3 separate regions of the Homo sapiens genome follow, and all the other regions are reported to be linked to region 1. Evidence: microRNA targets listed by miRTarBase, many of them from high-throughput screens and not tested one by one. Region 1 holds a microRNA gene; each other region holds the end of a gene's coding sequence.

The links. The annotated mature microRNA hsa-miR-4428 reads CAAGGAGACGGGAACAUGGAGC and lies in region 1 at 2,108-2,129, opposite strand. An mRNA with a match to its seed (bases 2 to 7 or 8) in the 3' UTR can be bound and repressed. Matches are read on the target gene's strand: a 7mer-m8 pairs with bases 2 to 8, a 7mer-A1 pairs with bases 2 to 7 and ends in A, and an 8mer does both.
Region 2: the mRNA of TTLL9 is a reported target of hsa-miR-4428. Seed matches in the 3' UTR shown: 7mer-m8 at 1,050-1,056 and 7mer-m8 at 1,898-1,904.
Region 3: the mRNA of METTL22 is a reported target of hsa-miR-4428. Seed matches in the 3' UTR shown: 7mer-m8 at 1,597-1,603.

What each region holds. Positions count from the first base shown.
Region 1 is chr1:237,468,953-237,473,292 of GRCh38, reverse strand. It overlaps MIR4428 (microRNA 4428), which reads right to left and starts at 2,174; the gene lies at 2,102-2,174. RYR2 (ryanodine receptor 2) reads right to left here. Exons shown (of 105, transcript NM_001035.3): 17 at 4,106-4,201.
Region 2 is chr20:31,942,541-31,946,540 of GRCh38, forward strand. TTLL9 (tubulin tyrosine ligase like 9) reads left to right here. Exons shown (of 15, transcript NM_001008409.5): 15 at 405-2,460. The coding sequence ends at 481. It overlaps PDRG1 (p53 and DNA damage regulated 1), which reads right to left. Exons shown (of 5, transcript NM_030815.3): 4 at 3,956-4,000; 5 at 1,797-3,349. The coding sequence ends at 3,267. Among named protein-coding and RNA genes, the nearest start is that of PDRG1, 7.5 kb to the right of the region's middle.
Region 3 is chr16:8,645,366-8,649,705 of GRCh38, forward strand. METTL22 (methyltransferase 22, Kin17 lysine) reads left to right here. Exons shown (of 11, transcript NM_024109.4): 11 at 743-4,289. The coding sequence ends at 778. Among named protein-coding and RNA genes, the nearest start is that of METTL22, 26 kb to the left of the region's middle.

The sequences.
Region 1 (4,340 bases):
GCCACCATGCCTTGCTAATTTTTGTATTTTTAGTAGAGACAGGGTTTCATCATGTTGGCCAGGCTGGTTTCAAACTCCTGACCTCAGCTGATTTGCCCACCTCAGCCTCCCAAAGTGCTGGGATTACAGGTGTGAGCCACCACACCCGCCCACCAAATACTTTTTTATGTACTTTACAAATATTAATCATTTAATCCCCCTAACAGCCCTATCGGGTAGATAACACTATTGTCCCTGCCACTAAATTAGTGGTAGAATGTAAAGAATAATGGAAAAAGCAATTTAAAAAAAAAAGTAAAAGCAAGGTGGAAAAAATAATTGGTGTTACTGTTCATTAGACCCTTTCTTCTCTATCCTTTGGGTCTAATGACTTCCCATTTGCTATTTATCACAAGTTTTGACAAGCAATTCCCTGTCCTAGAGAACCCAGTGTTTTACTCTTTTTCTTTCCTCTAATTTGAACTCCTTGGTCACCAAAGTAAACAGCGGTGTACATATTTCTACAGCCTATGCGTGCAAAGACATATATACATATTACACAGGGTTTTTGCCCCTTCTTTCCTCTTTTCATTTATTTCTTTCTACTTTCATCTTCACTTTTTTTTTTTTACAAAAATATATCCTATCACACATTCTAAAAATGAATTTTCACTTAAAAATATATTCTAAATCTATTTCAGGATATACATCTAAACAATTCTTTGCAATACCTATAATATAGCTGAAAATGTTGTTGTAATATAATTTAACTATTCACCTATGATTCATCACTTCATTTCCAATGTTGTTTTTTAAGGCAATCCTAGGCATTGTTCTGCATCTGGCAATGGTAAACGAGGTGTTTCAGGCCAGCCATCAACCAAAACAACCAAGGCACTGGGGACCTGCCAAGGCAGTAAAGACTAGAATGGTCTAGATCCCAGGAAGACAATTAACCCTACTTTTGATCCCTTTTCTACTCAAGAATTCTTCAGTTTGAATCTGCAGCTAGGGCACTAACGAGATGAGGAGAGTGTGTGTTCAGCAACGTCAGACTTATTACAGAGAGGAAAAAAATGATGCATATGTATGCACTTTGTAAAGAGCAAAGCACAATTGAAATAAGTTATATACATACACATGTGCATCTCATCATTGTTACTGCCTCTAAAAACTAAGCAACACCACTTCCTCTGGAGAAAAAACAGTTCATTAAAAGCATAAATGTTAACTACAGTAGAAAAAATTGTTCAGCAAAATATATTTTAGATACTTAAAAAACAAGAGCTACAAAGTATCATGGTCATATTGCAAGTCTGATGCTAGGGAGCTGAGTTTTAACCTTGGCAGTAACAATAATTTTTCTAAGATTTTGAGTCAGTCATTTAAATGTTCTTTGCCTCAGTTTCTTTTCCTCTAAAGTAAGAATGTTAGATTAAATATACTCTAAGGGTCCTTCTTTCCCTTGACTTTCATTATGTTATCTCTGAGCACAGGGCTTCCCTTTTCATTAGGAATGCCTGCAATCAACAGATTGACTGGAAAAAGACAACAGCAAATAATAATTTGTATCTGATGAAACTGTGCCTGTAACTGACAAAACTGAAGACTCTGAAAACACTGGACTGTACTTGGTTGACCTTAAAGGATGCTTGGCTCTGTTCATGTCTTTTCTCTCTCTGTTTTCCAGTTAAGCATTTCGCTGTGCAGTTGATTCAGCCAGTGTTAACACTCTGCTCTGAGGCTGCCCTGCACCTATCTCTTTACAGATACCACTGGGTCCAGCAGAAGACATGAGCATTTTTTAAATGTCTTCTGTAGCTTTCCAGTGATTCTGGACACTTGGCCCTAAACATTTATCCATTTTTGTAATCTATGCCACCATCTTGTTACTGATACAGGAGTTAAGGAGAAATTATTTAGGCAGATAGTGAGGGTACAGGAGTCCTTGGTAAGGTTTACCTTTTAATGAAGAGCAGTCCCAAAATCATGTTCTTTTCTAACAAAGAGCAGCCTGCAAAATCGAGCTGCAGACATAGAGAAGCAAGTTGGAAGCTTCCACGGGTGAATGCCAGCAGTTGTGCCAATAGGAAAAGACCACCTGGGACTAGGCATGTTCAAAATGGCGGCTCCATGTTCCCGTCTCCTTGCCAGCCACGTGTACAGTAAGGAGCAGGCAACATGGCACCTGCCAAGTGGAAAGCCTGTTTGCATAAGATTAGGGTGGAGCAGCCAGCCTTCCTGGCCAGCCTTCCTATGCAAATGTCATACCGAGTCCAACCAATCTTTGGGCCCTATGCAAATCAGACACTGCTTCCTCAAGCCTGCCTATAAAATCTGGTGCACTCTGGTGCAGGCCAGATTTCTCAATCGTGATCTCTCTCTGTCTCTCTCTCTCTCTCTTTCCTCTCTCTCTGTCTCTCCTCTCTGCCCCTATCTCTTCCTCTCTCTTTCCCTATCTCTCCCTCTCTCTCTTTGAGACAGCTGTTCTCCTTTCTCTTTCTTTTGCTTATTAAACCTCTGCTCCTAAACTCACTCCTTGTGTGTGTGTCCATGTCCTTAATTTTCTTGGTGCAAGACAATGAATCTCAGGTATTTACCCCAGACAATGACTTTGCTTCAGTACCACTTATTTGGTCACTTCTTTATGCTAGAAGTTACAGGTTTTTCCTTAATATATTCTGCAATTAATGCACAGTCACTACATTCATGTTATGATACTCTTAACACCCTCATCTCATAATTATTTTTGTTTTTATTACAACAATCTCCATTTCTATCTTACTTCTGCTGCCCAACGATCTAGCAGTGCCCAAGAACTCACTATGACTCAAATTTTTGTCCTCCACTATCTAAACTCTACACATTTTTGTCCTCCACTATCTAAACTCTACAAATTTTTCTCTGTGACTTAAAATTACTCTCTCTGATCATGGTTGTTTCTCTGTCTCTATTCAATTCCAACAAACCTGTCCCTGAGTGGGTCTTTATCATGCAAAAGTCTCAGAACTATTTTGTATGGACAGTGGTATTTTTTGAGTGAATTTTAATGTTCATCCATCCATTCATTCAACAAACAATACTAGACACCTATAGGTGCCAGATGGTATGGTAGATCCGGAAAGAACAAAGATGAATGAAACCATGCCCCTATCTTCAAGAAGTTCATTACTAATGAAGGAAACTGAGAGGAAAAATAAGTAACATAAGAGGGCATTAGTGATAAAGAAAGGCAAATAATGAAATACTGTGCAAACAGATGGAAGAGCAGTAGATTCATTTGGGTGTCACTGAGGCAATCTATGGCACTAGAGAGGTCAATTATGTGTGAGCTAGAGAGCTCTAACAAGTTCAAATAACTGATTTAATACTGGTAAGTCCAAAATCACTGATAAGTCTTCACAGTCATTGATAAGTCTCCACAATACTGAAATAAAACTAACATCTTATTAGAGATGTGTGTATCGGGTTGACTGCCTATAAATATTTTACTATTATACAGACCATTTGTTAGTATTTACTAAATTTCCTTTAAATAAAATATTACACTCTAGGATTTGGAAAATGAACTGTCTCCCCAATCTATCCAAATAATCTTTTGAATACAAGGAAAACAATGAGAACTCCAAACTGATCTTCTTATTTATAGAATAGACTAGCAGTAATCAATTTGAAAAAGAATGAGAATTCTGGCTCTTTAGTGGTTTTCAGGGCTTTATAAATAGGTTTTTTAAGATATAAATGGACATGATATTGTTAGATGACTATTCAGAAATGACTAATGAAAATACTAATGATTTTTCAAGAAATAAAAATACTTAACATAATTTAAAAGGAAAACACTTATATTACACCAAACATCAGAGTTTTTTCTTTTTGTTTTTTAAAGATGGGGTCTCAATATATTGTCCATGTTGGAGTGCAGTGACCATAGTGCACTACAGCCTCAAACTCCTAGCCTCAAGTGATCCTCCTACCTCAGCCTCCTGAGTATCTGGGACTCAGTACACACCACCACACCTCACTCAAAGTTGTTTTTTTTTTTTTTTTTTTTTGTCTTAAAGGATACGAAGCAAAGAAAAATAGGAGTGATCTATCACAACAAGGAAAAAACTAGAAAACATACCTGAAGAAGCTTCCAGTCTTTCCAATCTGCTGATCAACCAGTCGAGGGAGCCAGAAAATTGAGCACAGTTTTTACGATTTCCTCTAATTAGAGCCGCTGCAAAAGAAGAAATAGATTTCACCTTTATGTGATTTTCTAGCTCGAAAATTGAGATAAGCTAATATGCAGCCCTAAAATATTGGATCAAGAACAAAATATCCTCTGTTACATCTAAAAACTTATGCAAACATACATA
Region 2 (4,000 bases), not on the chromosome of region 1:
GTTAAGAGTGTGGCTCTGGCACCAGGTAGTCTGGGTTCAAATGATTTAACCTCTCTGAGCCTGTTTTCCCTTCTACACATCATTCCTGCGAGGGCCAAACAAATCCATCCACATTCAGCATCTGGAGCAGTTCCTGGCTTGAGGTAAGCCCCCAGTCCTCATGTTCACTCCATAAGGTGGGCAGTAGTATCCTGGTTTACAGATGAGAAGACCGATGCTGAAAAGGGTAACTGACCTGCTTGAGGGCCATGGCAGTTTAGGAATGGAGCCAGGATATAAACCACAGGCTGTGTGTGGTTGTCTGACTCCCGCTGTCCCCTCTTCCCAGCAGGGAGTTGGGGCACAGGCCCCTCCACTCCTCCCAAGCATAGGTCATCCCAGCCAACACCCCACTTCCTTTCCAGGCTGCGTCAACGATCGGAAGAAACAACTGAGGCAGCTCTTCTGCTCCCTTCAAGTTCAGAAGAAAGCTTCCAGTTGATCCCCAGCTGCCAGGAGGAAATCAGCCTTAGCAGGTGCCACCCAGGCCTCCCCCCCACTCCCAGATCCCAGCACAGCACCTCACAGCATTCGCCTCCCCACCTCCAGCCTGGCACCAGCTTTGCTGGCTTAGCAGCTGCAGCTTACTACCTGAATTGGGCCCCTTGGATACCTCCAGCCCATCCCCAGGCATCTTTGCACCAGGAGACAGCCAATCACTGGGACTGGGGGAGGTTTAACCTTGACAAACTGACTTGGCAGTTAGGCCCAAAGAGAACAAATACAGCAAGTTCTGCTACCCCCAGGAGATCATATCTAATAAATGAGCACAGGCCCTACTTGGAGTCACTGGGCACCAGGCCTGGTTCCGGGGATACTGTTGGCTGCAGCCAAGTCCTCCTGGCTTTGACACTTGGATACCTCCCAAGTCAGTGCTGAAAAGGTCCTTCAGGAGCAAGAGTTTGGAGGCTAAGGAACTCGTCTTTAAGCTGTGCTTACACAGCAAGCAGTTATTAGATTGTGTGTTTATTGGGGGCCTGGGGAAGTACTGAGCCCTAAACACATCCTCTTCTCCTTGCATGTCAGGGGAGCCCATGGGGCTCCCTGACCATCATCTGAAAACCAGTGGGACAGGGCATCCCCATTTCTCAGATGGACAAGACAGACCAGGGAGGCAGAGCTTAGTGAGGGTCTCTGCAAAGGTGCATTTATCTAAGTCAGATGGGTGACTTAAGTGCTTCTCTAGGCCTTGTGTTTGAGATTGGGAGCTGAGCCAGAAACCGGAAAACCCTGGGCTCATGGGCAGGACAGCTTCGGGAGTTGAGTGTGAGTAAAAATCTGCCTTTTCACATCTTACATTGCTAAGCTTCCTCTTGGTTTAAGAGGGGTTGCAACAAGACTCGGGGCTGTTGGGGTAACTGTTCCAGGGGGGACTTACTCCCTCTACCACTCCGCCTGCTTCAGAGTAGTTTCTCTGGCTGCAAATGGTTGAATCTGCCTGCCTAGGTCAAGCCCGAAGGGAAGACTTTTGGAAGGAAAATACTGGCAAATCCAAGAAGTGAACCAGCCGACTTTAGGAAAGCCAGAAGCCAGGCTACTCTAGACCTTCTGCCTTCAGAGCATGAGGACTTCTCCCACTCATCCCTGTACCTGAGGCACACCAACCCAGACAGGTCCAGGCATGGACTCCAGGTTCCCTATTTCCAGAAGGAATGCGATTAGCTTTTTTTGGCCCAGCACCCACCCTGCCAGGGAGGAAGGGGCAATTTTCCAGTGATGAAATTGTGAATCAGGCAGTCACACTGGACAACATCTAGCAAGGTGAATTCTGCAACTCCCTACTTTATTTACATTTTAAAATAAGCAATATATTCATACGGTTTAAAATCCAAAGTTTACAAAAGGGTATAGGGTGACATCTCCTTCCCTCCCACCTGTGCGCCCCAACCCTGCAGGTGCTGTTCTGAGGGAATCACACTGTGCTTGCACAAAAATTATTAGCTTATAAGACACCAGCCTTCCCCTTGCTTTCCTCACTTGATGTATCTTGGAGCTTGTTCCTTATTCTTGATTATAGTTGTATGGTATTGCACTATCTGGAGCTAACACCTGTGACCCACACTCATGTTTTAAAAGTTTCTGCATTAGTCAAAAATATTTAAAAGGAGATTCAACTTCACAACCCATATGTCTAGCTTCTCTTGAAAACACGTAAGAACTGGCCATGACAGCCTGTGTTTCTATGTAACTATGAGCCAGAGCCAAGGAGCGGGGGGACCAGGAGAGGTGTGCCCCTGCCATGCTGCCATTTGTTATCACCCGCCTGTCAAATCACAGGTTTATTTCAAGGCAAGAACCATGTTCATAGGTTGTATTCTAAATGGAGTGGCGTGCCCTTACTGAAGGACTAGATGAGGCAAATAAAGACTAGTTGCTGCTATTCATTCATTCAGCTAACATTTATTGAGCCCTTAATGAACACATAAGAGTTTTGACTTCACGGCAGTTCATACTGGGACCTCAGACCACTGAAGGCAGACAGTAACGAGCAGTGCTGGCCGGGCCCCACTTTCAGAGGGGGCGGAAGGGCATCTTGACACGTGTCATATGGTAAGAGGCGCATCCACTCACCCAGGCCTGGTGCAGGACTCTGCAAGGCCCTCCTGAGTAAAGAGTGGCCACGAAGGGCTGCTAGGCAGCACCTACTCTTGGAATCAAGCAGGGAAAAAGTGCAAAATTGGAGCTGGCGGGAGGTGTGTGTGCCTGCCCCACAGATGGCTGTGGTGAGCCACAAAGCACCAAGATTCTGTTCTTCATTCAGCAACCACCCATGAGCCTCCTGCTTTATTCCAATCGCATGGCACCAGCCTGAAAACCTCTCTCCCTTCTGAGAGGAATGCTGGAATGACACTCCACTCTGCCCCTCCCTCCCTCCTTCCTTGCTCAGGGTCCATGTGAACAGCAGGCCATTGTTGGGAAGTGCCTGTTGCAGTCATTCTTACACCCCCACAGCCACTGCCCCACACACCCACTGGTGGCTACCAAGGCCCGTCAATAGATCTTGTGTCCACCGAGCCCTGGTGTCCAGGTCCAGCAGCCAGACAGGCTGAAGGTTCCCTCCTGCCATCACAGAGTAGCCAAGCACTACAAAGAGGTTTTCATGGCCAGATTCCTGACGGCTGGCCCCTTACAGGGCAGATCCTGTCCTTACAGGTGTCAAGGTTGGAGGGTCCTGGGTCCTCCATGACCCTGGGGGGTTGCTGGTCCCCCATCTTGGTTCTTGAGTCTCATCCTTTCAAGATGACCTTGAGAGCTTTAAGCTCATCCTGGTTGAGGGGGTTCAAGTTAAAACCCTTCAGCTCCGGTTTGCCTAGGAGAGAAGATGATCCATCAGCACGTCGGGCCTCCTGCTGGCTCTGGAGCCAGGCCCAGGAAAGGGGCTGACGCTGCACTAATGCTGCCAAACTCAGCCTGGAGGTCTGGCAGGGATGGGCCTCCAATTCTGCAATGCACCAGATGAGGCATCACCACTGCTCCTGTGTCACCAAGAGCCTGCAAACGCGTAACTCTGCTGCCCAAAGAACCTCAGGTTTTTCCAAGACCTGTGACCAATCTAGAGTGCTTGCATTTATCAAGAATTTCAGCTCTGACCTCACTCACTCACTGAAGCCTTCTGAGTTTCCTCAGTCAGAGCTATCTGATCCCCATGCCATGCCCCGATGTATAACGTGAGATCACCCCAAGCGGTTCCTGGGACCTGGAAAAGAAACTATGACAGGACTAGGACTGTAGAAGTCCCCCTGTCCATTCTGTCCCTGGGCAGCTACAACCAACCACTGTGCACACCTCCAGGGCCACTCACAGGCTGCCCCGGACACTGCCCATCTCTGAGGGTCGGACTTCCCATCCCTGCCCTTCAAAGTCCATGCTGATGATTCCCTCCCCTTCTTATCTCCAGTCCCTGCTAAGCCAATACCTTGGGCCTCAAAAAGGCGGTTGACCTTCACTTTAAGTTGCTTCC
Region 3 (4,340 bases), not on the chromosome of region 1:
CGAGGAGGATCTTGTATTTATTGCTCTGCCACTTCTGGGCAGCATTAAGAGTAGCGTCACATGACCAAGAACACACATTTCTTACAAGTCAGCAGCCCCAATACATGATGCCTAAGACGTCCCAAAAAGGCCAGGTACGGTGGCTCCCACCTGTAATCCCAGCACTCTGGGAGGCCATGGTCGGAGGGTTGCTTGAAGCTAGGAGTTCGAGACCAGCCTGGGCATCACAGACCCTATCTCGACAAAAATCAAGAAAAAAAATTAGCCATGCATGGTGGTGCACACCTGTGGTCCCAGCTACTCTGGAAGCTGAGGTGGGAGGATTGCTTGAGCCCAGAAGTTCAAGGCTGCAGCAAGCTGTGATGGTGCCACTGCACTCCAGACTGGGCAACAGAATGAGATCCTGTCTCTAAAATAAAATTGTTTATAAAGATCTCCCCCAAAATGGAGAGATACGGCAACTCACTGCTATTCTGGTCTCTTCTGATTGTTTGACATCCTCTGATGCACCTTCCGTTAATGCTGGGACTTCATCCATCCAGCCTCTCTGCCACAGTAAAATAGAACAGCCCAGAGCAACAAAGAAAGGAGGAAGCCGCCCGTCCGCTCCTGCCCCAGCTCGCCTGCTCCGTGGCTGACGTGTTGTCTAACTACTCTCCTTGGTGAATCACTTTCCTTAATGAAATTGTGATGCTCTTGTATGTGCACTTCAGAAACCTGTTCTTTTCTCTGTTTGCTGCAGGAGCTCTGGAAGATCATCGCAGAACCAGTAACATGACCCATCGCCTCCACAAGGCGCGGCGTCTCGACTGTTCTTAGAGTGTATTTCTAGTAAAATCAGAAGCTCACCAAAGCAACATGCTTGAGATTTTGTCATTTTAAAAATATGGTTACACGTACCTTAGATGACCCAAGATGGTTTTCTGGGGTCTGTCCCTGCCTCCCAGTTGTAGCCAGAGAAGGTTGTTGCTGTGGGCTGGAGGTCACTTTAGTTGCCTGTTTCTCATGGTTGTGATGTGTGCTCCAGGGTCAAGCCGAGCCACGTTCCTTCTCAGCTCAGTTCCACCCACGTCAGTCATTTCAGCTGTGTGCTTTACTTGCGGTTGCGGCCCTGGCTGTGAGGTGGATTCTTGTACTGCCCTCTGTCAGCTGTTTACAGATGGGTTGACTACCACTGCCAGTATTGCCATCATATTGCCGCTCGGCACAAAAGCCTCATTTCCTCCCAGGGTTGGGTATGCTCCACCCCATCACTCTGGTGAGGGCCCCATGAGAAGGAAGAGGCAGGAGCTGGCGCCAGGAATGGACTGGCATTGGCCTTTGTATTTAATTTTAACTCTTTATCACCCAAATCAGGTACGTTTGGAATAAACCTAAGAGCCACTCTTTGGGGTCATGTGCAGCTGACCAGGGTTTGTGCAGTGATCTTCCTCAGAGGTGTTCCCTTCCGCCTGGACTCATTTTCCCTCCGCCCCTTGGTCTCTCTGTCTTATCACGTGTGTACATGTCTGTCTGTCTGGTTTTTTATCTTCTCCATCTGTGCCTCTCTCCTCCCATCTCCACCCCTTCCTGTCATCCTCTATGTCCCACTGTCTCTCTCCTTCTCTCCAGTTTTGGTCCCATCTTCCTGCTACCCTTGGCCCTCCCTGCAGCCCCTTTCCCCTGCCTTGCTGCTGCCGCACACTTTGCACCAGGGCCTTTCATGGCCCCTTTCCGCCTCCCTTGCAGCTCAGGTTTCCTGGCTTCTCCATGCACTGTCCCTGCCCACACTCGCTTCTCCCCAAGCTCCCAGGTTCCATCCCTAGGCCCATCATACCCCTGGCATTGGCTAATCCCTCATGCCAGGGGCCAGGCACTTGCAAGTCTAACTTCATCTTCCCAACAAATTTAGGAGGTCCGCAGCCTTGTGATACCCACATTACAGCGGAGAAGACTGAGGTCCAAAAAGGAAAAAGTCTCCATGAGGTCAGGGACCTTGTTTGTCTTAAATATCACTACATCCCTGCTGTATGGTCTGGCAAACAGTAGATGCTCAACACATATTGTTGAATGAATTGCTAATGTAAGTTACTAATTAGGTCATTATTTCCTATTTGTGAGTGATTTTGCCTCCAGGAACATTTGGCAGTGCCTGGAGACATTTTCGGTGGTCACAAGTAGGGGAGACGGGTGCCACCAGTATCCAGTGGGTGAGGCCAGAGATGCTGCTGAACGTTCTATAATGCGGTAATCACGGAGCATCCCCCACAACACAAAATGATCCAGCCCAAAATGTGAGTAGCGCCGAGGCGGAGAAATCCTGACTTGGAAGAAGAAAGCCAAGTACTTTAGAGAAGAAAAACGGTCTCAGCTGAACCTGTAGTGAGAGCATGCAGGAGAGTGACCTCACCCTGCCCCTCTGGGAGCAAGAAGAAAACCTATGCATGTACGTTATTATAAATCTTCAAAGAACCTAAAAGGCAGAAGTGATCCCTATTTTGCACATGAGAAATCCAAAATTCAGAGAGGTTCAGCAACTTGCCCAACATCACACAGCAACCAAGGGCAGAGTCAGGTTTAGAGCCCATGTCCACCCATGTCCATCTGACTCCTGAGCCTGTGCTTTTCCCACATTCCCGCTGGAGCAGCAGCAGCATCTGTGGCATCACGTGGATGCTGGTTAGAAATGCAACATCAGGCTGAGCATGTTGGCTCACTCCTGCAATCCCGATACTTTGGGAGGCCAAGGCAGGAGGATCAATTAAGGCCAGGAGTTCAACCAGCCTGGACAACAAAGCAAGACCCCATCTCTATTAAAAATTAAACAGCCAATTAGTCTGGCATGGTGGTTTGCGCCTGCAGTCCCAGCTACTTGGGAGGCCGAGGCAGGAGAATCGCTTGAACCTGGGAGGCGAAGGTTGCAGTGAGCCAAGATCGCAACACTGCCCTCCAGCCTGGGCAACAGAGCCAGACATCTCAAAAATTAAAAAGCCAGGCGAGGTGCCGGGCATGGTGGCTCATGCCTGTCATCCCAGCACTTTGGGAGGCCGAGGCGGGTGGATCACCCAAAGTCAGGAGTTCAAGACCAGCCTGGCCAACATGGTGAAACCCTGCCTCTACTAAAAATACAAAATTAGCCGGGTGTGGTGGCTCATGCCTGTAATCCCAGCTACTTGGGAGGCTGAGGCAGGAGAATCACTTGAACCCAGGAGGCAGAGGTTGCAGTGAGCCAAGACCATGCCATTGCACTCTAGCCTGGGCAACAAGAGCAAAACTCCATCTCAAAAAAAAAAAAAAGCCAGGCGTAGTGGCTAACGCCTGTAGTCCCAACTACTCAGAAGGCAAGGTGAGAGGATTGCTTGAGCCTAAGAATTTGAGGCTGCAGTGAGCCATGACTGCACCATTGCACTCTGGCCTGGGCAACAGAGAGAGATCCTGTCTCCAAAAAAGAAGAAAAGTATCAAGCCTCAGCTCAGGACGTGATTCCGAATCTGCATCTCAACGAGACCCTGGGTGATTTGTGTGCACAGTAGTTTGAGAAGCTCTGGGGCCTACCACATAGCCCTCAACCTATTGCTGTTTTCTAAAATTCCTACACAAACTCCGTTCCTGACAGACTTGCCATAATGGAGCAGCATTGCAGATCACTACAGGGAATATTAATAATGAGTCTTCAAATCAGAACCCCACTAGACAGAGCCAACAACTGGCAGTACGTCAGCACTAATGGTGACAATTTCCTAGCACTCCTGGGTACAAGTCCATAAATGTAATTGGCACCAAGCAATAGAGTTGTCACAGCTTTCACCTGCCGCATTAGGGCAAACTGCTTTTATGTCTAAACCACTGGGCCTGAAAGCTTCCTCTAAGTAGAGCCTGGAATTAATCTTGATCCACTGTAATTCAAAGTATCGTCAGATTTTCATTTCCCAGAGTGGGAGCGCGCCCCCATTGCCATGTTTTATGGCCTTGTTTGAGCCTCTACAAGTGCTTGTTTGGCAGCGATATTCAGAATCACCAAACCATGGGGATGTTCTGCTAGGTAATTAGCCCAGGCCAGTGGACTCAATTTTTTTATAACATTTTCAGAAAAATATGTGACCCAAGGAGGGGACTTGGCTGTTCAGCTGCAGCCTGCATGGGAAAGAACTGTTAAAACCAACAAAGCCAGGCACAGTGGCTCACACCTGTAATTCCAGCATTTTGGGAGGCCGAGGTGGGTGGATCACCTAAGGTCAGGAGTTCGAGACCAGCCTGGCCAACATGGTGAAACCCCGTCTCTACTAAAAATACAAAAAAAAAAAAAAAAATTAGCTGGGCGTGGTGGCGGTCGCCTGTAATCCCAGCTACTTAGGAGGCTG